Linked DNA regions of Homo sapiens. The protein of the gene in region 1 interacts with the protein of each later gene in a pairwise test. Each region holds a gene or a part of one and is shown in the gene's direction. Other genes may lie near its edges. The genes, in order: LAPTM4B, NAALADL2, ISLR2 and NRG1.

Region 1 (7,908 bases):
TCCGGTTGATAACACCCAAAGCCCCGCGTCTGTCACCTTGTGATAGATTTAAAGCCCCTGCACCTGGAACTGTTTACTTTCCTGTAACCATTTGTCCTTTTAACTTTTTGCCTACTTTGTTTTAACTAGACTCTCCCCCTCCCCTTTCTGAACAAAAGTATAAAAGAAAATCTAGCCCCTTCTTTAGGGCCAAGAGAATTTTGAGCACTAGCCGTCTCTGGGTCGCCGGCTAATAAAGGACTCCTGAATTCGTCTCAGAGTGTGGTTTCTCTATAAGTTGCTCGGTTACAACAATTTGGTTGTCCAAAACTTTGATTTTCTTGAACTTTTTTAAGAGAGTTTGTGTGGCTAGGGAGCAGGACCACTGTAAAACGAGGCACCTTCCCTGGTTTGTCCTAACCCTTTCTCTCAGCCAGCCATCTGGATGGAATGGAGTCAATTATCAGAAAGTGGAGAGTTAAGAATTAGCCAGGTGTGGTGGCTCACACCTGTAGTCCCAGCTTGAGTCCCAGGAGTTCGAAGCTGCAGTGAGCTGTGATTGCACCCCTACACTCCAGCCTGGGCAACCAGAGTGAGCACTGTCTCTTAACAGAGGCCAAGTGCGGTGGCTCACGCTTGTAATCCCAGCATTTTGGGAGGCTGAGGCGGGCAGATCATTGGAGGTCAGGAGTTCGAGACCAGCCTGACCAACCATGGCCAGTGTGGTAAAACCCCATCTCTACTAAAAGTACAAATTAGGTGCGGTGGTGTAGGCCTATAATCCCAGCTACTTGGGAGACTGAGGCAGGAGAATTGCTTGAACCTGGGAGGCATAGGTTGCAGTGAGCCAAGATTGTGCCACTGCACTCTAGCCTGGGTGACAGTGAGACTCTGTCTCAAAAAAAGAAAAAAAAAGAGAAAGAGGCCTGGTGCAGAGGCTCACGCCTGTAAGCACTTTGGGCGGCCGAGGTAGGCGGATCACTTGAGGTCAGGAGTTCTAGACCAGCCTGGGCAACATGGCAAGATCCCGTCTCTAATAAAAATACAAAAATTATTCGGTCGTGGTGGCATGCGCCTGTAATCCCAGCTACTCAGGAGGCTGAGGCATGAGAATTGCTTGAACTCTGGAGGTGGAAAGTCCAGCCTGGGTGACAGCAAGACTCTTATCTAAAAAAAAAAAAAAAAAAGTTGGGTGTGGGTGGCTCACGCCTATAATCCCAGCACTTTGGGAGGCCGAGGTGAGTGGATCTTGAGGTCAGGAGTTCAAAACCAGTCTGGCCAAGGTGGTGAAACCTCATCTCTACTAAAACTACAAAATTAGTCGGGCGCAGTGGCAGGCACCTGTAATCTCAGCTGCTGGGGAGGCAGAGGCAGGAGAATCCCTTGAACCCAGGTGGCAGAGGTTGCCGTGAGCCGAGATCACGCCACTGCACTCCAGCTTGGGCAACAGAGTGAGACTCTGTCTCAAAAAAAAAAAAAAAAAAGAAAAGTAAAATAAAGAATAATAATAATAAAGCGGAGAGTTTTCAGACAAGGCAGATATTTAAATAAGAGTCCAGGCCGGGTACGGTGGCTCATACCTGTAATCCCAGCACTTTCGGAGACTGAGGCGGGTGGATCACCTGAGGTCAGGAGTTTTGAGACCAGCCTGGCTAACATGATGAAACCCTGTTTCTATTAAAAATATAAAAAATTAGTGGGGCGTGGTGGCACGTGCCTGTAACCCCAGCTACTTGGGAAGCTGAGAGAAGAATCATTTGAACCCAGGAGGCGGAGGTTGCAGTGAGCTGAGATCGTGCGATTGCACTCCAGCTTGGGCAACAAAAGCGAAACTCTGTCTCAAAATAAATAAATAAATAAAACAAAAAGTAAGAGTCCACAATAAGGGCTCATTTAAGTAATTTCCTGTTTTGCAAGATAGGTAAAGTGGATCTTTTTTATATGTTTTCTTATTGTTGATTCCTACCAATACCGTTTACTAAGGCTCCAAGTGTCATGTACTTTACTAGATACTTTGCATAAGGTTAATTTTTACATATTCCTGGTGAGGTAGATTTTCTTATTCCCATTTTACAGATGAGAAAACTGAGGCTTAGAGAACTTTGGTGATTTACTTGAGAGCTTAAAATCCCATGGTTGGTTTATGATCTGAGTGATGTTTTAATCTGTTCTGTTTCCACTGTTTTACTTTTAAAAGTTGTGCATGTGTTTTGGTTTTGTCTTGGAATAATAAAAGTTTTCCTTCAGTCCTGAAGTAAAGTATATTGACTTCAGGTATTTATTATTATTATTACTATTTTTAAAATTCTGGGCCACGCTAACTTTGGGAGACTTCAGGTATTTATTCTAGAGATCATTTTTTGTTTGTCTCTTTTTTTTTCTTTTATTGAGTTGTGATTTATGTACTACAATTTTTTTTTTTTGAGACCGAGTCTCGCTCTGACGCCCAGGCTGGAGTGCAGTGGCGTGATCTCGGCTCACCACAACCTCCGCCTCCTGGGTTCAAGCGATTCTCCTGCTCAGCCTCCTGAGTAGCTGGGATTACAGGTGAGCTCCGGGCTAATTTTTGTATTTTTAGTAGAGATGGGGTTTCCCCATGTTGTTCAGGCTGGTCTTGAACTCCTGACCTTGTGATCCATCCGCCTTGGCCTCCCAAAGTGCTGAGATTACAGGCGTGAGCCACTGTGCCCGGCCTTTTTTTTTTTTTTTTTTTTTGAGGAGTTTTGCTCTTATTGCTCAGGCCGAAGTGCAGTGGTGCAATCTCAGCTCACTGCAACCTTCGCCTCCTGGGTTCAAGTGATTCCTGCCTCAGCCTCCCAAGTAGCTGGTATTACAGGCACCCACCACTGCGCTTGGCTAATTTTTGTTTTCCTAGTAGAGACAGGGTTTCATTATGTTGGCCAGGCTGGTCTTGAACTCCTGACCTCAGGTGATCCGCCCGCCTCGGCCTCCCACAGTGCTGGGATTACAGGCGTGAGCCACCGTGCCCGGCAAAATTCACAGTTAAATGTAGTTTATTGAGTTGACAAATGCCTCTGTAATGTAACCCACATTCCTTGAGAACATTTCCAAACTTTCAGCAAGTTCCCTTGTGCTGTTTCCCAGTTAATCCCTGCCATATCCCCAATCACTGTAGGTAAGTTTTGCTTATTCATGTAAAATGGAATTATGCTGTGTGTACCCTTCTGTATCTAGCTTCTTTCACTTAGCATAACTTCTTTTAGATTCATTCATCTTCTTGGAGTGTTGCTTTTTATTGCTGAGTATTGTTTTTATTGTATTAATATACCACAATTTGTTTATCCATTTGCCAGATATTGGACATTTGGGTTATTTCCAATTTGGGGCTATTATAAATAAAGCTGCACTGAACATTCTTGCACAAGACTTTGGGGACTTTTTTTTTTTTTTTTGAGACAGAGTTTAGCTCTTGTTGCCCAGGCTGGAGTGCAATGGTGCGATCTCGGCTCACCGCAACCTCCGACTCCCAGGTTCAAGCAATTCTCCTGCCTCAGCCTCCCTAGTAGCTGGGATTACAGGCATGCGCCACCACACCTGTTTAATTTTGTATTTTTAGTAGATAACAGGATTTCTCCATGTTGGTCAGGCTGGTCTCGAACTCCCGACCTCTGGTGATCTGCTCCCCTCAGCCTCCCAAAGTGCTGGGATTACAGGCCTGAGCCACCATGCCCAGCTTTTTTTTTTTTTTTTTTTTTTTTTTTGTGACAAGATCTCACTCTATTGCCCAGGCTGGAGTGGCTCAATGCAGCCTTGTCTTCCCTGGCTCAAGCAGCCTTGCCATTTCAGCCTCCCAAGTAGCTGGGACTACAGGCTCACACCACCACTCCACACCACTCCAGGCTTTTGTTTTTGAGACAGAGCCTCACTCTGTTGTCCAGGCTGGAGTGCAGTGGCGCAGTCTCAGCTCACTGCAACGTCTGCCTCCCGGGTTCAAGCGATTCTCCTGCCTCAGTCTCCTGAGTAGCTGGTACTACAGGCATGCGCCACCATCCCTGGCTAATTTTTTATTTTTGGTAGAGACGGGGTTTCACCATGTTGGTCAGGCTTGTCTCGAACTCCTGACCTCCTGATCCACCTGCTTCGGCCTCCCAAAGTGCTGGGATTACGGGCGTGAGCCACCGTCCCCAGCCTTTTTTTTTTTCTGAGACGGAGTCTCGCTCTTGTTGCCCAGGCTGGAGTGCAGTGGTGCAGTCTCGGCTCACTGCAGCCTCCGCCTCTTGGGTTCAAGTGATTCTCCTGCTTCAGCCTCCAAAGTAGCTGGGATTGCAGGCATGCACCACCATACCTGGCTAATTTTGTATTTTATTTATTTATTTATTTATTTATTTATTTATTTATTTATTTTTTAGTAGAGACGGGGTTTCTCCATGTTAGTCAAGCTGGTCTCAAACTCCCGACCTCAGGTGATCTGCCCGCCTTGGCCTCCCAAAGTGTTGGGATTACAAGTGTGAGCCACCGCGCCCGGCCTTTTTTTTTTTTTTTTTTTAAATATCCTTGTTCAGTTATTTTTTAGGAACTTAGACACAGCAAATACATACCAAATGCCTCTGTGCCAGACACTGTTCACAGGGTAGTTAGCCATATATCAGATTATAAAGGATAAAAGAGGTCAGAGTAGCTGCTTCATTGGCTTTATGACCTGGTCTTTCTTTTTAATTTTCTTTCTTTCTTTTTCTTTTGTTTTTTAATTATACTTTAAGTTCTGGGATACAAGTGCAGACCTGGTCTTTCAAAGAATCCACTTGTTCACATAGAAACTCACAGTTTCCTTGTTTACTCAAGTAAAGGAAACCAGAATATCTCACCCAAAATATACCTCTTTGGTATATTTCAAGATAGTATTAGAGAAACTGCAAACAAGAATAGCTCTGAAAAGCTGCTGTTTGTGGAGATTTGCATCTTTAGGGAAAATCTGCATTAGTGAAATAAACAGCCAGGCTTTCTCTGAGCACACCTCCCCACCCCATCCCCCATGTTCAGACCTTGGAAAGATTAACCGAGAGATTGAGAGTCTGACACCTTTGAAGGTCTAATAGAGAAGTTTACCACATACCACAGGCTACCAAGTATCTTTTCTCAAGCCTTCTACCTGTGGGGTCTCATTTGCATAACAAGACCACCTTCCCTAGCCAGGCCTTTCCGTCCCTCCCTCCCATAACCTGTTTTGCCGTGATCTAAACCCCTATTCTTTCTGTAACTTCAGAAAGACATTAAAACTTAAACCATCTGGCCCTTCCTTTGAGTTTTCTTATTTCTGTGACTCCCACGTATGCGTGTGCACGTAATACATTTGTATGCCGTTTCTTGCTGTTGATCTATTATCAGTTTGTTTATTAGACTCAAATGATCAAACCTTCAGAAGTTGTAGAAGGGGGAGAATTTTCTTCACCCCTTCACAAGCCTGATAGATTTTCTTTGTATTCTGAGAAGTTCAACAACTATTGATTTGTCTGAGTACAGGATAGTAAGACCAACATCCTGTATTTGTAGAGTGATTGATAGCTTTCGGTGGGCATTCACATTTGTTCTTATTTAGACCTCAAAGCAACCCTGGGTCACGCATGATAGGTGGTGATATGTTCTTTTAAGATTAATAGCTTCTTTCCAACTGTCAGATTCTGTGACTTGGCCCGTAATTTCAGGATAGAATAACGGACTGATTTGTGGCAATTGTGTCATCTTTATTGCCTGGTGTTTTCCCCACTATGTTAGATTGTAAAAGACTAAATAGTAGGCTAAAGAGTTTGGATTTTATTCTGTAGGCAGTGGGGAACCATTGAAGAATTATGAACAGGAGCGATATGATGAAAGCAGTTTTTTTTGGTTGTTGTTTTTGTTTTGTTTTGTTTTTTGAGACGGAGTCTCGCTCTGTCACCCAGGCTGGAGTGCAGTGGTGGGATCTCCACTCACTGCAAGCTCTGCCTCCCGGGTTCAAGCCATTCTCCTGCCTCAGCCTCTCGAGTAGCTGGGACTACAGGCGCCCACCACCACACCCCGCTGATTTTTTTATTTTTAATAGAGATGAGGTTTCAACGTGGTAGCCAGGATGATCTCAATCTCCTGACTTCGTGATCTGCCCACCTCAGCCTCCCAAAGTGTTGGGATTACAGGCATGAGCCACCACGCCTGGCCAATGAAAGCAGTTTTTAAGTTAGATTAAAATGGCAGGCTGTTTCAGATGGCTGGAAAACCAGGCAGTATGTTATATATAGCTCTCTAGATACAAACTATAGTGGGTATCAGCTCTTAGTGGTATGAATAAGATGGATAGGAATTTTTACCAGTTAGTGAGTGATACAAGTCTCTCTTTCTACCTAGGTTTTCTCCATCTGATTTAAGGAATTGAACAGATTTAGATAGGGAAGGACATTGGATTTTTAAAGTACAGGTTTCCCCTCATCTAATAAAGGATCAAGGGCAGTTCTATAGAACATTGGTTGGTGGAGATTTCAGTGGTATTCAATATCTTTTTAAGCTTTTATCACACTTTTTTTTTTTTTGAGGCAGTTTCATTCTGTCACCCATGATGGAGTGCAGTGGTGCCATCTCGGTTCCCTGCAACCTCCACCTCCCGGGTTCAAGCCCTTCTCTTGCCTCAGCCTCCCGAGTACATGGGATTACAGGCGCAGGCCACCACGCCTGGCTTAATTTAGTAGAGATGGGGTTTCACCATGTTGACCAGGCTGGTCTAGAACTCTTGACCTCAGGTGATCCGCCCGCCTCCCAAAGTGCTGGGATTGCAGGCCTGAGCCTCTTATCACACTTTTATGGTAAATGTTCATTAGAATGTTTTACAGACAAGGTGGCCAATAAATAAAGATTGCTATCAAAACTGTTTATTAATACCAATCACTCTCGGATTCACTTTAAATATATTTAACTTCGACCTAAAAGGAAGAAGCTGAGGCAAAATTAATGTAAGTAGAGAGTTTATTTGGGCCAGGCTTGAGGATTGCAACCCCAGAATATAGACTGACGTTGCCCTGACTGTACACACAGATTAGCAGCAGTTATAAGTGCATTTTTAAAGACTGAAAGGGGGAACAGGGAGTGTACTGATACAAAGTTGTTTGTCAGGAATTGTCCTTGATTTACAGAAACAACATTGGTTCGTGATTGGCTATCCATTGTTGAGCTATGCATTATTAGGTTAATTTGCAGCTGCTTGTGGCAATAGCAATCAGTTTCAACAGTTGAAGACATAGCTCAAAAGGGAGGGGGAGTAGAAAGTGATTGCTGTATCGTTTTAATGTCTCTCTGGGCCTGATAATAAAGACTTGCATCCCTCAGATAAAAGTTATTTTCTCAGTAACTTAGCATAAAGTATTAAGTTAACATGAGTTTTGTCGTACAATGTGTATTATGTTTGAATGAGTAATATATTTGTTTTGTCAATTTAACTTTGAATCTTGGCCCTGAAGGAAGAGGCCACAGTTGTCCCATTCTGCCCCACCACCTTTTGGGCTGATTTGTCATTGGTCAAAGGAATGCTAGTGGAAATAATGTGTGAGCCCTAGCAACTCTCCTTTTCCTCCTCCCAGTTCTTGAGACTCTTAGTAGAGCTTTTGGAGACTGAATGAGAGTTGTTGAGTTATTGGTTAACTCATTGTGCTTGACGGAAAGTAAAAAGCAAACAAAGACCACACTTCTTCAGTTGCTCCTAACGTTTTAAGAGTTTCGAGTTGCCTCTTTGCAGTTGCAGCTTCCAAGGGAAATTGTTTCTCAGGAAAATATGTGGGAGGTTAAAAAAAAATGCTTGAGGAAATGTAATTTCAAATTATTAGTAAACATAACATTGAACTTAAAAAAAAAACAAGGCCGGGTGTGGTGGCTCACGCCTGTAATCCCAGCACTTTGGGAGGCCGAGGCGGGCAAATCATGAGGTTCCGAGTTCGAGACCAGCCTGAC
Region 2 (7,908 bases), on another chromosome or scaffold:
TTTTAACAGATTTGTCTGGCTTCTAGTATGTCATAAGCAAAAATCGTGTCATTGGATTATGGGATAGGTATAGAAATAAATATACAAAGTACAGAAAGTACAACACAACATTAATTTCCCATTGGTTTGGCAATCTCTGTTTTTGTTTCGGTTTTATTGGAAAACATTGTGCTCATAGCATCATGTAATTTGGCATAAAATTTGTATCTAAACAGCTCTCTCTGTATTATTTTAAATAGCAATAACTATATGTCAATCATATTGTTTTAAATGAAATCACCTTAACTATAACAAAGAAATGTCTCAACTGGAATGACACCTAGATTTTGGAATGGACTTTTAAGTGTATTATGTTGATGTTGATAGAAGGATCAGAACTAATAGAAGATTTAGTTAGCATTAATATCACTCTTCTCTGCAATGCCATAGTGCTGTATTAGTGGGTTTTTTTGTTTTGTTTTGTTTTATTTGTTTGTTTTTCTTTGGAGAGAGTCTCACTCTGTTGACAAAGCTGGTATGCAATAGTTCCATCCTAGCTCACTGCAGCCTCCGACTCCCAGGCTCAAGTGATCATCCCACCTCAGTGTCCCAAGTAGGTGGGACCACAGATGCATACCAGGACATCAGGCTAATTTATTTTTTAATGTTTTGTAGACAGAGGTTGTCGCTATGTTGCCCTGGCTAGTCCTGTGCTTAAGCGATCCTCCCTCCTTAGCATCCTAAAGTTCTGGGATCACAGGCATGAGCTACCACAAGGGCCGTCAGTTCTTAATTTAAGAAACTAATTCATTCCACTTTGTTTTGTGTTTATGTTTCATGTGATAGGGTCCTGTCTCATTCATCTTTCAATATTCCACAACATCTATTAATATTGTTCATATATTGAGCAGTCATATCTCAAAAGAATAAAGTATTCTCCTTTTTAAAAAAGTTTTCTTTTCAAATTTATTTCAGAAATTTGGTACAACTATATAAAAATGAAGATGACATGGAAATTTCAAAGAAGATTAAGACTCAGTGGACCTCTTTGGGCCTAGAAGATGTACAGTTTGTAAATTACTCTGTGCTGCTTGATCTGCCAGGCCCTTCTCCCAGCACTGTGACTCTGAGCAGCAGTGGTCAATGCTTTCATCCTAATGGCCAGCCTTGCAGTGAAGAAGCCAGAAAAGATAGCAGCCAAGACCTGCTCTATTCATATGCAGCCTATTCTGCCAAAGGAACTCTCAAGGTAATATGACCATTTGTCTCTGTCATTTACAGTGAGATGGAATTAGAAAATAACAGCTTTCATCTAAATTGAACTAACTGTCAAGATGCAACATACAAAAGTAACCATTAAATCTTTTCAGTGTGGAAGTGCCAGGAAAGAGAAGGAAGATGTGGCCCTCCTGACCCTTTTCTTGTCATATTTTGAAAGTGAAAACATGTTAGAAAAATTTAATTCAAAGGTGTTGAATGTGTGACTGAGTCATTCACATTTTGCTCTGTCCATATAGTGCAAGTCTATTTCATTCTACAGCTTTGGAGAGGCAAAATTTAATACACTGATATAGAGAAAGGGAAAGAAATGGAGAGGGTTGTGTTTTGAGATTGTGCACACACAAAAGAAATTAAGTGGAAAATTGATATGATTATTAACACATTTAAGATTTGAAACACAGCGCCCCTACTTTCATGATGGAAAACACATGTGATAAGCCAGGTGTGTATTAGTTCTTCACCTTTTCTGGGTCAGCAGATTTATGATGCAGTTTTTTTTTTTGGCATTGTGGTTAAGTGCAAGGCTTCTAGAGCCACATGGACTAGTTTTAAATCTCAGCTCCCCAGTTAACCACTGTTACTTAACCGTTGGGAGGAAACGGGCTGATTTCCTCATCTCTGTATTGGAGTCAATAATAGTTCCAACTCATAAGGTTGTTGTGAGAAAAAATTACAAATATATGTAAATCTAGGAGGACAGAGCATAGCCTATAGTAAGAACAATATACAAGTTAGATATAACAACGTGTAATTGGTCAACAGTTTCCTTTCTATGGACTAGTTTTCTAACTCTATGTAAAAGTGTAATTTTAAAAAATACACTTAGTTTTTTTTTTTTTTCCATCAAACTGTTGATTGCCTCATTTAATACCAATGAAATAATGTTATCTTTCTGACTGTTGTTAATGGCACAAATGTTTCAGAATCTAACTTATTATTAACTTTGATTGATATATGGAATGTTTAAATCATTTAAAATTACTTTGCATAAATATTTGAAATAATAACAGTAAATGCTCGTTCCTAATAGATCTTGGGGGAGTGGGAGGGAGAGGCAGATTTTCTGGCAGTCCAGCATCGTTTCTATTCTGTATATATCACACTTTGACTTTTAGCCAAAGAGCTGCATATAACTATTACCACCTTGAAATGTCTTACCATTAATTAAACTTCAATATAATATTAAATGTCTGCAATATTTCTACTGTAGGACTCATATAATTTGATTGGATTAATATTATGCTCTTTCTGGCAGGTAATAATGGTAACACACCTGTATATTAATAAAAATAGAGGAAGGCAACTGTCACTCTTTCCTTGATTCAGAAGCTTTGGCCTTAAGCCAAGACTCTAAAAGTTACCCCGATATTTTATCTAAAACTCTTTACTCTGTCTAAGCCATACGCATTTTCAACCTCTTCTTTATCCCAGTTGGCTCAGCTCATGTCTTCTCCTAAACAAAAGCATGTCTTAAACACAGAACATTCACAAAAACACCAGGAACTTGAGTGGATCCTTGGAATCTTCCCCATCTCTTTGCTTTTCAATTTCCGCTGGTGAACATTGATTATTCCTTGAAGAAGGAGATACGCAAAACTCATGAAACTACAACTTGTATCCTTATTTCCTTAGCATGGCCCTCTGTAATAACCCGCTGGCCCAGTGGATTGAAGGTAGAATAAGGTTAAATCAACTAATTTATTTAAATAAGTTCCTTAGATACGGGTTCACCACAAAAACCCTCCCTCAATGCCCGTGCACTTTCATATTGTACAGTTTCCACACTGACCAAGGAAAGAGATATCCTATCACTGTGCAGCTTCTCCGAGGCCCTTATGGGAGCATGTATTTGTTGGTCTTACTGTATAATGGGGAGATTCACTGGATCTGGAAAATTAAATTTCTATGACTCCTTTATACTCCGGACTTACTGCATAATAAGGGAAACATGGGAGATGAACCCTTCAATAACAATTTGTTTGCCTTGGTTTAAAAGGAATACTGGCCGGGCACTGTGGCTCATGCCTGTAATAGCAGCACTTTGGGGAGGCCGTAATCCCAGCACATTGGAGGCCGAGGCGGGTGGATCACCTGAGGTTAGGAGTTCGAGACTAGCCTGACCAACACAGTGAAACCCTGTCTCTACTAAAAAAATACAAAAAATTAACCGGGCCCGGTGGCAGGCTCCTGTAATCCCAGCTACTCCTGAGGCTGAGGCAGGAGAATCACTGGAGCCCAGGAGGGGAGGTTGCAGTCAGCCAAGATTGCCCCATTGCACTGCAACCTGGGCAACAAGAGTGAAACTCCTTCTCAAAAAAAAAAAAAAAAAAAGAAGAAAAAGCGGGGGTGGGTATATTAACAGATATTGTATACTTCTAATTTCTGATTCATACTCACTACCAGCAAACTCTCATAATAATGGAGGTGGTGGTGGAGGGAAGAAAGTCAGGGAGAAGGTCATTTGGAAGAATCTGTTGGGCCCTAGAGTTCCACTATTGGGCAAATCCACTTTCCTGTGATATTTGTGCAGATATTGGACACAGAGTATTGTACGTAATTGTATGTTTGCTTTTTATATTTTGTAAAAGTCTAGGCTGAATCACAAAAATGTTAATCATCCCTTTTATTCTAACAGATGATGCTGTAGGATGGATATATAAATATTCTTCGCCCTTTATTTTCTTTATTCTTTCACACTTCTGCAATTAGATAGCCTCACCTTCAAGTGTCCTGCGTTCAAGTAGTGTGTAAGAGTAATAAATGTTTGGCTATGTAGTGTCCATTGTTAGACTCCTTCACACAACTGAATGTCATCTCATTTTTAATGTAAAATAATTTTTTAGTTTAAAATATATGTAATATTACTAATATGTAGAGAGGTTTAATATTTTAAGAAATAAGTTAAAAATGTGAATTTGCAAAATTCTATAGCTTCAACCTTCTTACTTTTAAAAACTGAGCCTATTCCCTTTCTTCTAGATGTTTTTAGGCCACACCAAATTCCAAGCAGCCACTGATTGATTAGTTTATAGGGACCCTATAATTATGATTTGATTAAAATTAAAATATATTCAGGCCTAAAGTATTTTAATATCTTTTTCAAATTTAGCAGTCATTGTTTGTGGAGGCTAAGTTAGCCTCCATAAATTTTACTTGAGCACCATTTTTATTTCCTTGACAATTTCAAATCATCAGACCTTAGAAACTAGAAATGTGAATTCGCAGGATACCGATGGTGTTCTCCACCCCCAGCCTCTCTCCCATTTAGAATTATAAGTTATAAGGGAGTTGTATTCTCAGCATTTTGGTTATATGTTCGATATGTTCGGTAGCTGTCTTTTTAGATCCCTTTAAATGAAACAGTTGTTTTTCTTATCCAAATATATGTGGTTCTTTCCTCTTCTTTATTTTTTTTCTTTTTCACTTACTTTTTCTTGTCAATAGAGGACACAAAAGAAGAAGCCGGTTTACTTAAAAACACTATATTTTAACTTTCAAACTAATGCACGTGTGTATGTATCTATAACAATGGCCTTTTGTGTTGTTTTTCTGGGCATGTTGTATGACAATTTCTATTACAGCATATGGGACAATTGGGATAAGATAGGGTTCAGTAACACTTTCTTGTATGTCTCCATCTTTCACAGTTAAGGCAATGCACGCCTATGTCTAAGGATTTGACTTTGTATTGAAAGAGCCAATTTAAAAATGAAAAACTTAAGAGAACCAACCAGTGGTTTTATCTGTTTACTATCAAAGAGTACTCATTTATTTTTTAAAAAGTTAATTATTTTTTTCATTTTGCTAATGAAACTGGGTGGGGTGTTTTTTTTAAAATATTCCTGTGTAACCATATCTCTGAGAGTTTTCTACATGTTTATCTTAACAGTTTTAAGTTTTTAAATTTCCTTTTGTTTCACATAAAATAAAATCAACCTCTACTGCAGATTTCTGGAGTTATCCAAATATGCATAGTTCTAAGTCCTTATTTAGTATCCTGACACCATTTGTAAGTGTATTAAAACTGCCTTTTTTAAAATAAAGAAGAGTTTAAAAAAACTTTTAAAATGCAGCTGTTAAAAGGGAGAAAATAAAGTTAACTGTAGATGTAGAAATATACTCCATGTTTGAAATATTAGGGCTAAACAAAAGGGATTGTTAAAGGAAACAAAATGCAATACGGATAAACCTTACACCTTGTATTTGAAGAACATAATTTGAGAAATTAATTATGCAAATTAGATAAAGACACTATTTTAAGATTGTATTAATAATGCAAATCTATTATACTAAATACATATTGATTTAAATATCTATATCAAGAAAGCACATGCTATTGATACTCATTTCTTAAAACTCAGATTATATCAGTATTATAATTTTCAAAAGCAATTTCTAGGTGGCTATTATATATGCATATACAATACCTGCACATATTTTATATGCCTGTTTTAGATATATTATTGAAACTCACATGTTCTAATAGATAAGGCGCTGGTGATTTTTCTGTATCACTTTAAATCATTCCCTAATTCAAATCAAGCTTGAGTGGTTGCTGCTAAAGATTCAGGCATGCCTCTTTTTTTGATTTTGAGTACATTGTGTTTGCATGAATTTCTGTCTTGCAGAGCCATTAACAAGTTCTTAAATTATTCTAGTCTGACTGCCAGCAAAGCTTCCCACAACTTTTTGCTTTTGACAAGGTTATTTGCAGAAGAGGAGTGCCCCTTTTCTTGGAAGAGCTGTCATGTCCATTCATCATAGGACCGTTTTGTGTAAGCTTCCAATTTGTGCTTTCTGGTAACCGTCTAAACAGCATTTCTGATATCTGAGATCTACTTCAAAAACCTACTTAGTGCCAGCATGATGGATGGTGTACTTTACAACTTCTTTGTAATTCATCGTGCACTAGAAAGGTGACATAGTTTACCCCATCATAATGACAGGTGGGTCAGTAAAAGGGTCCTAAGGAGAGTTGTCCTGTCAGATGCAAAATACATATTAAAATGGATACATAAATAATTTAGCATGTGTAAGGTTAGCTTCAGGGAATAAACAGTGATTTGTATTTTTCTTAAAAGGTAAATATCAACTATAATATTATCATAAGGTTAAAGACATTGGTGGTGAGTGCTGAAAATGTCTAGTCAATTTTATTAATAGAACATATGGCTTTTATGCAATTTCTATGCAATTATTTCTTTTGTCCTTTGTGAAACACCAGCAGATGTAGAAAAGCAAATCACATATTAATATTTGCTATACATTGGTCAGATTGGTTCTGCCAAGTTGTTGCTGAGCAAGAGATTTTTTTCTTATTTCCATACATTTTATGGATTTTGTATCTTTTCATTCTGTAAAGCTTCATTTTTTTATCTGAAAGATAAGCCAAGTAATGCAGTTTTATGGAGAAACTTATTTTCAAAAACTCACTAACTGTGCAGAAGCTACATTATTATGAAGATATGTGTCACTACCCTATTCTGCAGAGAGCATAGTTCAACAGCCCAGACTAGCATCCTTTCTTAATAGGTGTGCAAATGTGGGGTGGTCAGGTCAATTCTGTACGACTCAGTGTTCTCATCCATATAAGGGGAATAGTAACAGTAACTTTAACGTTTTTTGTGGGGAAGAAATGATATAAACCATGTAAAGCACCTGACAGTTAGTACTCTATCAATGTTAGCTCTTATTGTCCTGTAAAAAGTCGACACATTTAAATGGGAGAAATTAAGAAACTACCAGAACATCAGAACAATATATCAAGATTTGAAAGAACAAACTTTTATTATATTTATCACATTATCTAAATATAATCTTTCTGTCTTCTCTTTAACAAGACAAATACGAATCATTAGGGAAGAAAATGCCTAGGCCAGTATGAATAAAAATAAAATATACATAATGCCCTGATCCTATGTTTAATTAAAAGTGAAAGCTCAAAAAAATTACAAATGAAATGTTTTATTCTTGAATGCAGAACGATTAATCATGTTGAGTTGGACCAGAAAAGCATTGCTTGTCTTTGTGTGTAAAATATCAATATGTAGTGCCTTAACGTATGAAATCTGAGCACTGTATCAAATATTTTCTCAGAAAGTCTCAAAGAGACAAAAATACAAACACTGCATGGAATCCTTGGATAACCTACAATCAGATGCCTATTTTCTCACAGCTGGAAAAACTTGGTCTTTCTCTTTTATTTTGAATATTTTCAAACAAAAGCAAACTTATCAGTGTTATGGCAAAAGGCAGAGCTATATGCATTTGGCTCTGAATGATTGCTGTTATAGATAACAATATCAGTGAGCTAGAGAAGTGGAATGGAACTGTAGTACTTAAACTTTTGTTTTCTGGATGGTAAGATGAAGCTACTGTCTCACCAACACAGAAATGTGAACTTCGAAGTTTTTGTTTGTTTGTTTGTTTGTTTTTTGAGATGGAGTTTCGCTCTTGTTGCCCAGGCTGGAGTGCAATGGCACGATCTCAACTCACTGCAACCTCTGCCTCCCAGGTTCAAGCGATTCTCCTGGCTCAGCCTCCCGAGTAGCTGGGATTACAGGCATGTGCCACCACACCCGGCTAATTTTGTATTTTTAGTGGAGACGGGGTTTCTCCATGTTGGTCAGGCTGGTCTCGAACTGGAAC
Region 3 (8,546 bases), on another chromosome or scaffold:
CTCAAGCGATCCTCTGGTCTCAGTCTCCCTCCAGAGTAGCTGGGACCACAGTTGTGTGCCACCACGCCCAACTAATTTAAAAAAAATGTAGAGATGAGGTCTGACTATGTTGCCCAAGCTGGTCTTAAACTCCTGGGCTCAAATATTCCTTCTATCTTGGCATCCCAAAGTGCTGGGATTACAGGCATGAGCCATCTTGCTCAGCCATGTTCCCCTTTGAATGCAGGAGTATCGCCTCTTCCAGGCAGGAGTTCCTCTTATTCAGTGAGACAAGCACAGACCCAGATAATTACATGAGCTGCCACTGGAAGAGCTGCTGTTAATTTTGATGGCAATAAAAGGCCTTGCCAGTACGTTAAGCTAATTTCATGAAAATGCTGGGAGGAGGGTCATGGGCTGGATCCCAGATTATTAATAATGTCGAGCTTCATTTGAACCATTCAGAAAATTCCTCTCAGTTGCCTCCAGCAAACTGCAACAGGTTGCTACTTTCCTCTGAAATCAACAGTCTTCTCATAGGCAAATGTGGATTTTTTTGTTTTTCCCTAGAAAATAATTAAAGTCACAAAGTCCAATAAATACTTAAACAGAATGTAGTTTTAATTAAAAACCTTCCACCAAGTCTGCAGTTGCGGGTCTCTCTTTGCAAACAGGCATGCTGACAAGCATCAGTCTAAGTATCTGAAACTAGAAACCTTTACAAATAATAATAGTAAATCTGGTTTCTACATATACCCATGGTGTGTGTGTGTGCAAAGGGGGTGGTGGTGGTGAAGAGGTCTGGGGGCAGAGCCAAGGTGCTCCCCTGTGGAGGAGGCAGGACACAAGCCTGTAGGGGTGTGTGCAGCAGAACCTTTTATCAAACTTGTGTCCCACTCTGCAAGGCAATAATAATGGCTAATTCAGCTATTATATAAAAAACGTATCTCAAGTACTGAGCACTAAGTGTCAGGTACTAAGTGCTTTGCGTACATTGATTCATTTAATCCTCAAGGTGACCGAAAAGCATAGGTATTTTTTTTTTTTTTTTTTTTTTTTTGAGACAGAGTCTCGCTCTGTCGCCCAGGCCGGAATGCAGTGGCACTATCTCGGCTCACTGCAACCTCTGCCTCCCGAGATTCTCCTGCCTCAGCCTCCTGAGTAGCTGGGATTACAGGCATGCACCACCACGCCCGGCTAATTTTTGTATTTTTAGCAGAGACGAGGTTTCACCATGTTGGTCAGGCTGGTCTCGAACTCCTGACCTTGTGATCCGCCCGCCTGGGCCTCCCAAAGTGCTGGGATTATTACAGGTGTGAGCCACCGCGCCTGGTCAGTACTCTTATTTATGCCTTTTTTTCTTGAGGCACAGAGAGGTTAAATAGCTTGGCTAAGGACACACAGTCAGTACATAATGGAGTCTGACGCTAGGACCTGCCCGCCTGACGACTACATAGAACCTGTACAAGGAAAGGCCGGAGGAGGGAGTATAAACAGGGCCTGGCTTCCCTGAGGAGTGATCTTTCGACTGGAAATTAGAAAAGGAAAGCAGCTTCTTGAGGGTGTGGGGCTGGAGAGAACATTTGTGTGTGTGTGTGTGTGTGTGTGTGTGTGTGTGTGTGTGTGTGTGTGTGTGTGTGTCTGTGCGCGCAGAAGCTGAAAGATGGGAAGTAGTGAGTGTTCAGGGGCTTCTGACTGGAGGGCAGCCTTGGGGAAGGTCTCCGCAGCCTTAACCGGCTGCTATGCTGGGGATGTTTGATGCCCATCTGGGCCCCGGCTTTCTTATTCTCAGAGGCCCTTCCCACATCTTTAGGCAAGTCCATTAAATCCTCCGCGTGCCACATTAAAATACAAGGGCAAGTACAACTCTGAGTGCAGTTGCAACAGAATCGTTTGCACAATGTCGCATGTCTTAAACATTCAATCAAACATCGATTACTTCCAATTTTGCAGTTTTCTTTGCCCCTGTTAGCGCCAACAGATTTTTTTTTCCAGATCTCAGACATTTATTTTAATAGGCCCCTGACAAAGTCATAAGACTCAGAGAGAAGGGAGAGTGGGAGAGGTGTATAGGAAGGTTTTGTGCCAGGGACTAGTCGCTCAAGAATTAGGAGACGCCCTGGGCACTGGAAACTACGCAGCGCGAAGTAGGGACAGCGCCTGTGTTGTGTAGTGGACCAGAGGTTGCTGATACCTGGGACATAGACTGGGTGGGCACGGGAAGTAAAGCCTCGGGACTTTGGTTAAGCGCGCCCCACTGGCGTATCGCGCCGCGGGACTGCAGAGCCGTGAGCAGCGGTCGCCTTGGTGCAGGGTTCCAGCCACATCTTCCTCGCCCAGCCAGCACCCTCTGCCGTTGACCCGCCTCTGCGCCCGGCAAGCGGCTTCCAGCAGGGGGCGCGCGCGGACCAGGCTTGGGCCCTAGAACAGCGCGGATGGAGTCGCTGGAGCAAGTCCCCAGATCCAACCGGTTTCAACCCTCCCCACCCTCCCGACGCTCCGGGTTCGCGACGTTGAAGTTAAGGGTCGATCCGCAGAAAGCGGCCAGGGGCTCCAGCTCTCCATTCCTGGGTCTGTCTGGGGTCGGCTCCAGCCTGGTTAGAAGCCTTAGTCTGGATTCGGCAGATTCTGAATCTGGGACCCTCTGCGCTAGCGGCTTGGAACCTTGTCACCCTCCCCTCCCCCACCCCTACTTCCACACACCTGATTAGTTGTCTGTTTCTTTAATGATCAAAGACGTGGGCGGCGGCGGGATGAGGTCTTGGTTCCCGGCTCCACAGCCCTCCCTAACTGTCATTATTAACGTTATAAACATTAGACCCGCTTCTGCGCGCCGGACGGCGCCGGACGAGGTGCGCGCAGTCTTCTAGCTGAGCTCGGAGGCAGATCCAGAAGTCGCGGCTCCCACCCCAGGCCTCGGCGGACTCTGCCTGGGGCGACTCGGGCTCCAGCCCTGCCCGGGCGGGCACTGGGCTCTCCAGGGTCGAAGGCAGGGGTAAGGGGCGTCTTTCCCCCAGGGCAGCCTCCGGGAACAAAAGCATTTGCTGTAGAGTGAGCTAGAGCCTCCGGGCCCGCGGGAGTCAGCTCCCGCCCAGGGGTGGTCACCGCGTCCTTAACCACCCCAGGAGCCCCGTCTCCCTGCCGAACTCCTTGGCTTCTGCAACCCTGTCAAGACAGCAAGGAAAGGGGGTCTTCCCTGGTCCTCGGGCCCCGAAGTTTCGGGGTTGCTTATAGGACGGGTTCCTGCAGTCCAGGGAAGCTCTGGGCAGATAGCGAGCCCATTCTCCCTTCCATTACCCAGATTCTGCCTCCCTGCGGAAGGCAAAAAAGAAAGAAAGAAAATAGGTAAAAACCGGCGGAGGGCCTTGAGCCTCCCCGCCTGGCGCCCCTCACTCAGTCCCGAAAAGTCCCCTGGACACGCCATGCCGGACCGGACTCAGCTCCCGCTGCTGGGCCCCTGCCTCCAAATATCCTTCCCAGGCACAGGCTCCCAAGACCGCCCCCTCAGGGTTCCCAACACCCGGACAACTGCCCAAGACGCCGCTCCCCGCCCCCACCCCCACCTTGTTCGGCAGACAAAGAAGGGTGTGCTGGCCCCGCCGTCTGCCTCCTTCTCCCGACCCCACAAGGCCTAGAAACCTCAGGGACTCACCCCGGGCTAGGGACCCAATCCTGGCTGTCCCACCACAGGATCCCCGGCAGGGACGGGTCACAGTGCTCTCACCCCTCGACCATTTTCGAAGACACCTTCCCTGAAAGGCGCCTTGCGCCCTCCCCATGGGTCGGCGGGGGGGGACTCCAGGCCCGAGCAGGCGGTGTGAAGTTCTGTGTTCTGAACTGGGGCTGAGCAAGATGCGATGGTCTCAGCCCGCTGGGCCGCCCGTAGCGACGGCAGGAGTAGGGGAGAGGGAGGGACGCTTGGAGTGTGAGCGCACCAGTCTGTTCATATTTAATTTACAAAGCAGCCTCGGAACCCCGGGCCGGGTGGTCTCTTTAGACGCTGCGCTCTTAGCCTGTCTCTCTTCCCCACCCCCTCCCCTAGCTCATTAAGATGCTCAACACTCAAATCGGGGTATTGATCTCCACGGAAGCCCCAAACCCTCGCCATCGAGAGACCCCCATGGCCCGGGGTGATGGCTGTGGGGCTTGGTGCTCCCAGAGAGCTCAGTGGCTACAGAATGGGTGGGGATTCTGCGTGTCTCCCGGAGCCTGAACCCCTTTCCTGGTTATGGCCGGTAGCTGTCTCCAGGGCTAACGTGGGCAGCGCAGGGGGGCGGAAACCGGGTTTTAGCCAAATGCCTCGACATCGCCGCGCCTCCGCCTCCTCGTCGCTGAAAGAAATGTCGGGGTTTCATCAGAGCTAGGGAGCGACAGTCGGGAACAGCGAGTCTGCCGAAGCCGGCTGTTGTGTGAGGGTGTGAGACGGCGGGGCGGTGAGGGGCCACCGCGGCTTGGGGGATAGTGCGTGTGGGGTTGACCGTGTGTCTGCTTGAGAGGCTGTGAAGATATGGGGGGCAGATATGGGAGAAATGCTCGGGCCTGAAGTCCCCAGCCCACCGTGCTCAAGAGTAGCGGACGTTTTGCCACCATCCTTGTCTGTGCTACTGTCTGCTGCAGCTTCCGTGCCCCGTTCTCCTGGAGCAGGCAAGACCTGGAGTGAGGTGCTTGGGTGCGCTCGAGAGAGCTTCCCCCTGCTCCACCTGTCCCGCGGTGCGCGCAGGCCAACGCGTCGGGCAGTGGGCTTCAAGCGCTGGTTTAGCCACAAAAGACCAGAAGTAAAGAGTTCCGGCTTAAGAGGCTGGGCAGGGCTGCGGTGGGCTGGGGAGGGGGGTGTCCCTTCCCAGCACGCCCTGCAGGGCTGTGCGTTCTGGTGTCGGGTTAGACTAGCAGGCGGGGCGGGGGGGTTGGGGCGGCGGGGCGGGGGAGACTAGGGCTTATATCAGCCCAGATCCAGGCAAAAATGGTAGGGAGGGTGCGGCGCTCTGCTAACACTATCAATTATGCATCATGTTGAACGTGGCTTCGGGGAGGAGGCGGCTAGCAGCGGGGGGTGCGGGAGGGAAGGGTCCGCGCGAGCTCGGCTGCGCGCAGCTCAGCGGGTCCCGCTCGAAGTCTGTCGGTGCCACCGCCTGCATTTGCAAAAAGAGTTTAAAGGCAAAGACACGCCTTCCCCCCCCACTTCAGCCGCGCGCCTTTCCTTCCCCCAAATTCCTCAAAGATGGTTTGTCTCACGTGTTGCAGGGCGTAAAAGCGGCTTGCATTCAATTAGCAGCGAAGCTCGCGGGCGCTGGCGGGACAGGCGCGTGAGGGTGAGTTCGCGTGAATGTGTGTATGCGTGTGCGAGAGGAGAACGGTAAGTGTCCCGGGTGCAGGTGTGCCCGTGAAAATGCGTGTGAATGTAGCAGGGGCTGAACACATTGATGCGATTATTACCTGACCATGGATGATTGTAAACTGTGAAGGTCGGCTATGGGGAGGGTGTGAGGGACTGTGTGCGCGAATGTGTTTGAACGTGGGGTGGGGGAGGTGGTGTGATCAGGGACAGTAACAATGCCAGCGGCTGTGTAAATGTGGGGGTACGTGGGTTATGGGGGTGCAGTAGGCTGCGAAGAGCCCAGCCAGGACAGTGGGCGTGGGATGCCCCTTATGACCGACGTGTCTTGGCCTTGGGGAGGGTCTCCGTGGCTTTAACAAAAGTAGACCAAGCAGGAGGCGGGAGAGGCTATGCGCGTCCCCGCCAGGCCCGGGAGTGCGCAAGGACTTTCTCCAACCTGCAGCCAGAGAGGTGGGGGAAACGGACGCAAAAGGAAAAATTGAAGTGGTACTTTGGGGCCACCAAGTCCCCAAACTTACCTGTCCCTTTCTTTGCCCCCCGCCCCCCGTTTTCCCCACAGCCACAACACATGCGTGTATCTTGCTTGGGCTATCTTCCCTGCTCTGCCACGCCGGGTCTGGAGAAGGGGTTTCAGCCCCAGGACATTTACTGAGAGTCGGCGAATATTGGGTAAGCAATGGGGGCCACCCCACAACCTTGACCCAGGTGGGGTTAGGTCCAGCCTAGGGCACCTGATGGGGTGCGGGGCTGGTGGGGGTGCTGTCTGGCAGGAACCGGGAAGGGAGGGAAGGGACCCTCCCAGAAGAGCAAAGGCAGAGTGAAGGAGCAGGTTCCCAAAGACAAGTTGTGGGAGGGGCTCTGCCAAACCTGACAGGCGCTCCAAATGGGGGCAGGGAGTCTGTGCAAGTTCGTTTGTGTGACCGGGCTTAAGGTGTTATGGGGAGGGGGTCCTTAGGCACCGCAGAGCTGTGGAGAAAGGCGCAGAATCTTTCATCTTCTCCAGCTTCATTAGCTAGTGGCAGCCCCATGACCTGTTGGCTGAGGACGCCTCTGCCCAATGGGAGCCGCCTGAGGGACCTGAGAGGAAGCTCTAGTGACCGCTTTCCCAACACACCTGGTCCAAACATGGGGGAGAACCTCCTTCCCCGTAAGGAAGGTTGGCAGAGCAGCCCTTCTTCTCCCCTCACAGGAGCTGCAGCCCCGGGCAGGTGACTTTGGCCTTAGATGCAGTAGGGCATGGGGATGGGCTTCCCCAGATCCCACATCTCAAGTCGTGCAGTGCAGGTCCTCCTATTGCTTCTCTGCTGGGTTTCGGTCACAGTGGAGGGCTGTATGCACACACAGGCACATGCCTGTGTTCTTGTGGGTGGGTCGGTTCGTGTGAGGACTTGTGTCCTTGTGTCTGTCAATTGTCACAATGGACAGGAAAGCGCTTTGTACCGTGGTGGAAAACACGTACAAATGCTGGTTAAGAGAACAATGAGGTCTGCAGGGTCTATTGTGTCCATGTCTGGGTGCATATGTGTTTGTGAGTTTAGGAAATGTGTTGTGAGCCTCCTAATTGAGCATCAGGTCCTCTAAACCCCTGCAGAAGTTGGCGGTTTGATTATGAAGCCCCGCGTCTGTTTGTATTGTTGTGTGCCTGCATGGGCGTGTGTGCGAGTGCTGTGCGTGGGACAAAGGTTCCAGGGAGGACAGCCAGTCACGGACAAAAATGTCCTTCTTGGGTAGGATCCATTTCACCAGGTTAAACGAAGGCTTAGAAACACAGAGAGGGGTACGTGAGGAGCCCGCTGGAGATGGGCGAGCTGCGGAGCCCACGGAGGGGCCAGCTCCAGCGTGAAGGAAGGAGTAGGAAGAGAAAAAAGGGCGATATACCGGGCCGCTGGAAAAGGAAATTAGGGCCCTGGGAGGGAGCATCCGTTGAACCTCGAGATTTTTATTGACCTTCACTTCAGAGAGGCTCCTGGCCATAGAGGAGGTTACCGGAGCCCTGGAACTAGTGCTAAACGGGCTTGCGGAGGCACAGCTTGATAGGGGAGGTAAGCTGGGGTTCAGTGAGTCACCTTCTTTCTTCTTCACCTGGCTTCCATCTGCAGGAGCCGCGATGTTCCCCCTTCGGGCCCTGTGGTTGGTCTGGGCGCTTCTAGGAGTGGCCGGATCATGCCCGGAGCCGTGCGCCTGCGTGGACAAGTACGCTCACCAGTTCGCGGACTGCGCTTACAAAGAGTTGCGTGAGGTGCCGGAAGGACTGCCTGCCAACGTGACGACGCTTAGTCTGTCCGCGAACAAGATCACTGTGCTGCGGCGCGGGGCCTTCGCCGACGTCACACAGGTCACGTCGCTGTGGCTGGCGCACAATGAGGTGCGCACCGTGGAGCCAGGCGCACTGGCCGTGCTGAGTCAGCTCAAGAACCTCGATCTGAGCCACAACTTCATATCCAGCTTTCCGTGGAGCGACCTGCGCAACCTGAGCGCGCTGCAGCTGCTCAAAATGAACCACAACCGCCTGGGCTCTCTGCCCCGGGACGCACTCGGTGCGCTACCCGACCTGCGTTCCCTGCGCATCAACAACAACCGGCTGCGTACGCTGGCGCCTGGCACCTTCGACGCGCTTAGCGCGCTGTCACACTTGCAACTCTATCACAATCCCTTCCACTGCGGCTGCGGCCTTGTGTGGCTGCAGGCCTGGGCCGCGAGCACCCGGGTGTCCTTACCCGAGCCCGACTCCATTGCTTGTGCCTCGCCTCCCGCGCTGCAGGGGGTGCCGGTGTACCGCCTGCCCGCCCTGCCCTGTGCACCGCCCAGCGTGCATCTGAGTGCCGAGCCACCGCTTGAAGCACCCGGCACCCCACTGCGCGCAGGACTGGCGTTCGTGTTACACTGCATCGCCGACGGCCACCCTACGCCTCGCCTGCAATGGCAACTTCAGATCCCCGGTGGCACCGTAGTCTTAGAGCCACCGGTTCTGAGCGGGGAGGACGACGGGGTTGGGGCGGAGGAAGGAGAGGGAGAAGGAGATGGGGATTTGCTGACGCAGACCCAAGCCCAAACGCCGACTCCAGCACCCGCTTGGCCGGCGCCCCCAGCCACACCGCGCTTCCTGGCCCTCGCAAATGGCTCCCTGTTGGTGCCCCTCCTGAGTGCCAAGGAGGCGGGCGTCTACACTTGCCGTGCACACAATGAGCTGGGCGCCAACTCTACGTCAATACGCGTGGCGGTGGCAGCAACC
Region 4 (7,908 bases), about 65 Mb from region 1:
TAGTTAGAATTGTCTTCCAAAGGACAAGTCACCATTTGGGCCCATAACTGTCCTACCCATCACATAGGATTTTCTTTGATACAGTGCCCTGCTACCTCATATTGTATTGCTTCTTGTGTTCACATTTTACTGTTAAATCACAGAGAGCCTGACTCAATTTACTAGTTAACTACAAGCCAAGTTCATGTTTGCAAATGTCTTTGAATTTAATATATTTAAGTTAGAAATGACTCTTTGTAAAGACCACTGGATATAAAGTGATGATATAAAATATCTGGGAAATACAAAAAGGCCAGGGGCTGGGGGATAAAGAGGGGAGGAAGGAGGAAGTGGGGGGCGCCCAGTGATGCCAATTCCATCTCCTTTAATTGGTGTTGATTCCTGTTGTCTTTGCAAGAGCTTTTTATATTTTATTTTGCAAGAGACTACAAAAAAAAATAAAACTACAGAGTTTTAACCAAATAGTTATTTTATAATTAATGTTTATGATTTCCAATTTACTATCAACTATATATATCTCTATAGCTTATAATTAGAAGTAATTTCTGAGTATAATATTTGTATTGTAAATGGCCCCAGCTGGCTTTTTTATATTTATGTTCAAAGCATAGTGCAGAGCATGTTGTACCTTAGCTATGTGTGTAAACGTAAAGAATTGTCATGTATTTATTTTCTTGTGAACATGGACAATGTCATGCAGCATGCCCACTGTTTGGTTGTAGTCAGTCCTGGCAAGTGGAAGTGACCTGTGATGACATCTGCTCTCATCCCTTTCCAGAGGCGGAGGAGCTGTACCAGAAGAGAGTGCTGACCATAACCGGCATCTGCATCGCCCTCCTTGTGGTCGGCATCATGTGTGTGGTGGCCTACTGCAAAACCAAGTAAACCTTCTTTCTCCATGCCTTTCTCTCTCCTTCATGCAGAGACAGCTTAGATGGCCAGGGCTTTGCAGAATCTGAGCTCCACAGCCTAGTCTTGGGGATAAAAAAAAAAGGAGGGGCAGGGGGAGATTATTTCCTCTGAATAATCCATTTTGAGGATGTCTCCTAAACACAGAAATAGAAAGCTGTTTGCCTATTCATGTAAAGATTTCTGTTCAATGACCACAGCCCCTGAGTGGATAAAGGCCTGGAGGGACAGGCTTGTATGGAAGGTATGTGTGTGGGTGGGACAGAATGAAGGCACCTCATTCTAAAAGGAGAGGGAGGGTACCAGAAGTCCATTTGAGGGCTTTAGTATAATTAAGTTATCCCCAAAAGAAACTAACTTGCACCTAGAAAAACTTCTATGAGTTAGAGACTGACTGCATTCAGGGTGCAGTAGTACCTTCAGTTCAAAGGACTACTGAGAACAAATCCAATTTACACTGAAAATTACGAGATAAAGGAAACCTTTCGTGGTATCTGAAATGCAGTTTTCTGAGTTATAGTGATTATTATTATTATTTTTAAATTCTATCTAATTAGGTTGCCAGTATGAATGCTCTCACAGCCTGAGATGTAAAAAAGGAATCTCAGGGGAGGAAAATGAAGCAAAACTTTCTTTGAAAACATAAGAGAGAAAACATTAGAATAGATTTGGGTTCCCTATGTTTGGTCTTGAAGTTTGGTCCGTATTAACAAATTCAATTACTATGTGACATGGATTCTCTTCACTTTTCTCTCCTACATATAACTTACATTTCAAGCCTAATATGTTAAATTAACAAGGTTTTTGAAAAAATGTTGCTGCACGATACTCTGTTGCCAAACCATCCATGGGAATATTTCATAATCTGAATGTTGCATTGAGGAAGAAAAATAATATGCTTTTATGCCACAAAATCCAAAGCATGGATTGTATTTTGTCAATATCCCATGATTTAGTGTGTTGCCAGAATTAAGGGATAGAGATAAGCCTTCCTGGAGTCGACCTGGTGAGTCTCATTAGATTCCATCTCAATATTCGCTGCCTAATTGCACAAAAAGCGTTACCAGAGTAGGAACATGTTACGATTGTGCCAAAATCCGCTGGCAAAATATGTCCACATTCTCACGCGTATACATGGGATACACTCACAAACATGCTAACTGTGTATATTCAAAACTCAGTTCATTTTCTTAAGAGACCCCAGGAAAAGCTATAAATGAAATCACTCTTATAAATTCTACAGCACATTTTTTTTTTTTAGACAGAATCTGGCTCTTTCACCCAGGCTAGAATGCAGTAGCACAATCTCAGCTCACTGCAACCTCCCCCTCCCTGGTTCAAGTGATGCTCATGCCTCAGCCTCCCGAGTAGCTGGGACGACAGGTGCACGCCACCAGCCCGGCTAATTTTTGTATTTTTTGTAGAGACAGGACTTCTCCATGTTGCCCAGGCTAGTCTCAAACTCTTGGACTCAATTAATTCTCTTGCCTTTGCCTCCGAAAGTGCTAAGCTTACAGGAATGAGCCACCCCACCCAGCCCAGCACAAATTATTATCTAAGACAAATAAGTGTCCATTTGTAAGACTTAGGCAAAGATGGATTGATTAGGAAATTTGTGATTTTAGTCAATTATCAAGTTATTTGTGTTATCCTATTTTTTTCTTGTCTCTCAGTAAAACAGCTAAATTTCCATAAGAATCCCAGGTGGCTTTTAAAATCTGTTTGGTAAGGATGTGTGGTTTCACTTATTCTGGGATACAGTGGACATACTCCCTTCCCTCTTCCTCATCACCAGTCTACTGCCTTGAACTACTCATAGGTGTTGGTAGAATAAAGACTTGGCTCTACTATGAAATGAAAATAATCAAAAAAAAATAAATGCTCCCTTTCTTATGTCCAGGAAACAGCGGAAAAAGCTGCATGACCGTCTTCGGCAGAGCCTTCGGTCTGAACGAAACAATATGATGAACATTGCCAATGGGCCTCACCATCCTAACCCACCCCCCGAGAATGTCCAGCTGGTGAATGTACGTTGACTCTGGCCAGTGGAAAAAACTGAGCCTCTCTCCTTTGTTCAGACGCCTTGAAGTTTATTTTCGAAAGCTCTTAAGCTTTTAGCTGCTGCCATTAATCACCATGGCTTCCAGGAATCCAGGTTTTTGCCAGGAGAAAATAATGGGAACATTTTTAAAAGTGGATTTGGTTACTGTAAAATCAGCACATTTCCTCTTATAAAGTGTTCATTAAGGGGTTGGAATAATAGTGTTGGGTTTGTTCTGCAAGGAGGCCATAGCTGGGGCTTGCGTGGAGAGAGTGGGGAGAAAACAAATTTAATAGTACGATAATCAAAAAGAATGTTTTCATATATAACTTGGAAATACAGGCTACTCCATTCTGTAACTGATTAGTACAGATAACCGAGCAAAGAGCTTTAGAGTTATTTTCTTAGGGCAATTCACAGTGCCTGATGATTTACTGGTTATGATTTCCAAAGGATTCTGATTTCCTTTAGGGCGTGGAAAGGTCAAGTGACTTATCAAACACCCTTCTCAGTAGCAAAAGAAGAGTGTCATGCCAGCTTCTTCCCTGGCCCTTTCTAAATGATGTCAAGCCCTCCAGATGAAATATATCCATAATCATTAAAATATTTTTTTCATACTGTACCAAACACTCAGCATTCAGTTTTTTAAATACAACTAGATCATAGAATATTAGGTTCTGGAGAGTTTGAAGATATTATCTTTCAAATCTCTCTTTTTCTTTTTACAGATAAGGGCCAGAGCCGCACCATCTCTTGGCTTTTGGAGTATTGCTCTTTATATTCCAGCATCATCCTTCTTATTTTCAAATTATTGCTCTGATGTATGGTTTTTTTAATACACAAAGCTTGAAGCTTATATTGTAGTACCATTTTCTATCCTATAGAAAAAGGCATATTTTGAATGGAACAGATATATCATAGACCCAACTACAGAGTTGGTGGTTACTAAACTATCAGCAAGTCTTGTAGCAAAAACCTTCAAAACTTTGTTGGAGCAAGGTGCTTATAGGTTAACACACTCTGTTGCCTTTTCACCCTCTAACAGTGTTCATCACAATGTTCTCCACATTTGATAACGATATTCACTACAAAAGGAACTATAATCTGTCACTCTGCATGTTATAATATATAAACGGTAGAATGACTGCCTAGATTACATTTACTGCTCACATTGTGCATCTTTGGGCTTTAACTTTTCTCAACCTTATTTCTTCAATATAAAAACAGACCTAAAAATAATACCTACTTCAGAGACTCCTTGTGAGCCTTAAATAAGGTAATTTGCATAAAACACTTAGTCTAGTGGCATTTAGTGAGTGTTCAATAATTGTTAAGTATTTTTTTCATTAGATTCACTGAGCTTATGTTGCCTTCCAAAAAGCAATAGTGAAATGGTTCAGGGACTGGAAGTAGGTCACTGTGTATCCTTTCCTTAAATCAAGCTAGCTGTACTTCCCAGGAAGATCCACATGGAATAGCCTTTCCACTAAGAGAACCAGCTAGAGTTTCAAGCATAATTCAAGCTGTATATTTTTGGATCTCCCTGAATATATTTAGAGCCCGCAGACCGTCAGATTATAAAGTGCCTTATTTCATCAAAGAGTATTCCTTTCTATTGGTTTTCCTATTATTTAACTCAATTTGGTATAAATACTAACAGCAATTAAAACACAACTTCAAAAAGGGGCCTCCCTCCCTAATAGAAACAGTAAAAACTACTGTGGTTTGCTGATAAAAATAAAGTAGACTCTGACTAGGCATGGTGGCTCACACCTGTAATGCCAGCACTTTGGGAGGCAGAGGTGGACGGATCACCTGAGGTCAGGAGTTTAAGACCAGCCTGGCCAACATGGTGAAACCCCATCTCTGCTAAAAATACAAAAATTAGCTGGGCATGGTGGCATATGCCTGTAATCCCAACTACTCGGGAGGGTGAGGCAGGAGAATTGCTTGAACCGGGAGGTGGAGGTTGCAGTGAGCTGAGATTGCACCACTGCTCTCCAGCCTGGGCAACAGAGTGAGACTCCATCTCAAAAAAAAAAAAAAAAAAAAAAAAAAAGGAGAAGAAAAGAAAAGAAAGAAAGAAGAGAGAAAAGTAGAATCTACCTGCATTAAATAGAAATGTCCTCCATATATTATGTGCTTTGTCAAGATGTGTGCATTGACAACAATTGTTAAGTCCCTTATCAGTAGCCTTGTTAGCCCTACCACTGCTAACAAGTTAAACATTTCAGTGACATTAGTAGGGCAACATGGGCACTAGGAAATGGAAGGAGAAAGGTAGGCCCAACATATAGAGATTCTGAATATTTTTTTCTAGTGCTTTGAAATTTGAAACTATACAAATCACCTGTCTGCTTCTATTTCAAATAGCATTTAGCCTTCTTCACCTTGCAATACCATGAAACAAATGAATGTTGGATGGATATTTGTATGGAATTCTAGTCATTAATTTAAAATAAAATAGAAGAAATAGGACTTTTGCTGATAAAATGTAGTTGGAATGATGGGCCGTACATTGGATGCACATCCAGAGAGTATTTTTTTTTTTAACTCTATTCATCTAATCTAAAAGCCACAGTAGCCAGGACAGGATTTTCCACCTGGCCATTGGGGAAATGGAATTTATTACAAATCAGCTGTACAAAAATAGATTTGTGTGTTTCTGACAGTGTTAACGTTTTTATTTACATGACAATATTAGTGCTTTGATTGACATGAATCTACGTGAATCTTCAAGTTGTGTCTCTTTGTTTATCCAGCAATACGTATCTAAAAACGTCATCTCCAGTGAGCATATTGTTGAGAGAGAAGCAGAGACATCCTTTTCCACCAGTCACTATACTTCCACAGCCCATCACTCCACTACTGTCACCCAGACTCCTAGCCACAGGTATGAGAATTTAAAAATTCCACGGCTTTTCTCTCAGAATGAATTGTTGCACATTGCCTTTTGATATCCCTGCCTAAGAAAGGAGGCAGTGAAATGGATGGTCTTTGGGCAGCAACAGATTTTGAAAATCAACTGGCTTTGCCCTTAATTCCTGCATAAATTTGAACCTCAATTAGGTAACTCCACAGGGCCGTTGTTTCCCATTCCTGAGATTGTCTTTACTCATGCCCTGCTACTCACCGAATTGCTACACTGGGACAAGTCTGTCTTTGGCTCTGCAAAATACTTAGAAGTCAATTTCTTTCAGTAATTGGATTGCCCTGGGAAATGCACATGAGAATTGGTTAAATAGTGGAACCCTAAATTCTCAAATGCCCTGGTGATCCCCACCTGAGTGCACTTACTCTACCAAGACCAACACTAGATCTCCAAATGTAGCTCATACAAGGAAATGTTTCTTTAATCTAAGCCACTCAAGAACAGAGAGATTATAATTATATACTGAGGAGTGGCATTCGAAAATATTTATTGAATGAGTGGACAAGTGAATATACTGTATCCTTACAAAGCCAATCTGAATCAAGATCCTCTCTATAGCAAATTACCTTTGTGGCGATTCTATTCGGAGACAAGTGATGTTACAGTGAGCTCCGGGTGCATCAGTAGTTTGAAACATTTGTCAGAATCCATTCCTTTCATTTCCATTTTTTTGCATATAATTTTTGCACGAAATATCTGATTGTCTCTCCCATTTCCTCCGCAGCTGGAGCAACGGACACACTGAAAGCATCCTTTCCGAAAGCCACTCTGTAATCGTGATGTCATCCGTAGAAAACAGTAGGCACAGCAGCCCAACTGGGGGCCCAAGAGGACGTCTTAATGGCACAGGAGGCCCTCGTGAATGTAACAGCTTCCTCAGGCATGCCAGAGAAACCCCTGATTCCTACCGAGACTCTCCTCATAGTGAAAGGTAAAACCGAAGGGCAAAGCTACTGCAGAGGAGAAACTCAGTCAGAGAATCCCTGTGAGCACCTGCGGTCTCACCTCAGGAAATCTACTCTAATCAGAATAAGGGGCGGCAGTTACCTGTTCTAGGAGTGCTCCTAGTTGATGAAGTCATCTCTTTGTTTGACGGAACTTATTTCTTCTGAGCTTCTCTCGTCGTCCCAGTGACTGACAGGCAACAGACTCTTAAAGAGCTGGGATGCTTTGATGCGGAAGGTGCAGCACATGGAGTTTCCAGCTCTGGCCATGGGCTCAGACCCACTCGGGGTCTCAGTGTCCTCAGTTGTAACATTAGAGAGATGGCATCAATGCTTGATAAGGACCCTTCTATAATTCCAATTGCCAGTTATCCAAACTCTGATTCGGTGGTCGAGCTGGCCTCGTGTTCTTATCTGCTAACCCTGTCTTACCTTCCAGCCTCAGTTAAGTCAAATCAAGGGCTATGTCATTGCTGAATGTCATGGGGGGCAACTGCTTGCCCTCCACCCTATAGTATCTATTTTATGAAATTCCAAGAAGGGATGAATAAATAAATCTCTTGGATGCTGCGTCTGGCAGTCTTCACGGGTGGTTTTCAAAGCAGATACTGCCTTCAAGATGGCCCTTTATTCCAGAATGTTTTGGCTTTCCTTTGGGGAGATTGGGTTGGGTTGGGGGAGTTATAGCAAAGGTAAAATGAAGAATGGAGGAAAGTAAACAAAGAGATATTAAATAGTAATATTGAATTCATAGATTCTCTTTCTCCATTTTCACCTGAGCTGGAAGATGACCAGTATTTCTAGCCCATCAGTAAGCTGTTACCTGTTCCTATTTGTTTGCAAGTCTGCTGGGTTTTACTTTATTTTATTGTCATCTCAGGCTAATCTTTGACCATTTACTAAAAGGTTTACATAATGTCAAATCCATACTTATGTGGTAGTTACATGGGAGGAGATGACTTTGATAGAGTCTTTCCACTCTTGGACTGGGAAGTTACTTCCAATAAAATAACACATTCTGGGCTTGAAGGCCTGTTGCTTACTTTTGCAAGGGCCTTTCCTTCAAAATGATATTTTAGAAC

Evidence for each region.
Region 2: the proteins of LAPTM4B (region 1) and NAALADL2 interact in binary tests that used the Homo sapiens proteins (3 or more experiments, as listed by UniProt).
Region 3: the proteins of LAPTM4B (region 1) and ISLR2 interact in binary tests that used the Homo sapiens proteins (3 or more experiments, as listed by UniProt).
Region 4: the proteins of LAPTM4B (region 1) and NRG1 interact in binary tests that used the Homo sapiens proteins (3 or more experiments, as listed by UniProt).

Annotation. Positions count from the first base shown.
Region 1 is NC_000008.11:97,778,606-97,786,513, forward strand, and holds part of LAPTM4B (lysosomal-associated transmembrane protein 4B), read left to right. Parts: intron 1-7,908. UniProt on the Homo sapiens protein: Required for optimal lysosomal function. Blocks EGF-stimulated EGFR intraluminal sorting and degradation.
Region 2 is NC_000003.12:175,232,977-175,240,884, forward strand, and holds part of NAALADL2 (inactive N-acetylated-alpha-linked acidic dipeptidase-like protein 2), read left to right. Parts: intron 1-954; coding exon 955-1,228; intron 1,229-2,115; exon of another isoform or gene 2,116-2,833; intron 2,834-7,908. UniProt on the Homo sapiens protein: May be catalytically inactive.
Region 3 is NC_000015.10:74,125,334-74,133,879, forward strand, and holds the start of ISLR2 (immunoglobulin superfamily containing leucine-rich repeat protein 2 precursor), read left to right. Parts: upstream 1-5,252; 5' UTR 5,253-5,288; exon of another isoform or gene 5,289-5,441; intron 5,442-5,482; exon of another isoform or gene 5,483-5,764; intron 5,765-5,873; 5' UTR 5,874-5,983; intron 5,984-7,413; 5' UTR 7,414-7,421; coding exon 7,422-8,546. UniProt on the Homo sapiens protein: Required for axon extension during neural development.
Region 4 is NC_000008.11:32,753,594-32,761,501, forward strand, and holds part of NRG1 (pro-neuregulin-1, membrane-bound isoform isoform HRG-alpha proprotein), read left to right. Parts: intron 1-778; coding exon 779-881; intron 882-2,809; coding exon 2,810-2,936; intron 2,937-5,712; coding exon 5,713-5,843; intron 5,844-6,606; coding exon 6,607-6,813; coding exon of another isoform or gene 6,814-6,817; exon of another isoform or gene 6,818-7,908. UniProt on the Homo sapiens protein: Direct ligand for ERBB3 and ERBB4 tyrosine kinase receptors. Concomitantly recruits ERBB1 and ERBB2 coreceptors, resulting in ligand-stimulated tyrosine phosphorylation and activation of the ERBB receptors.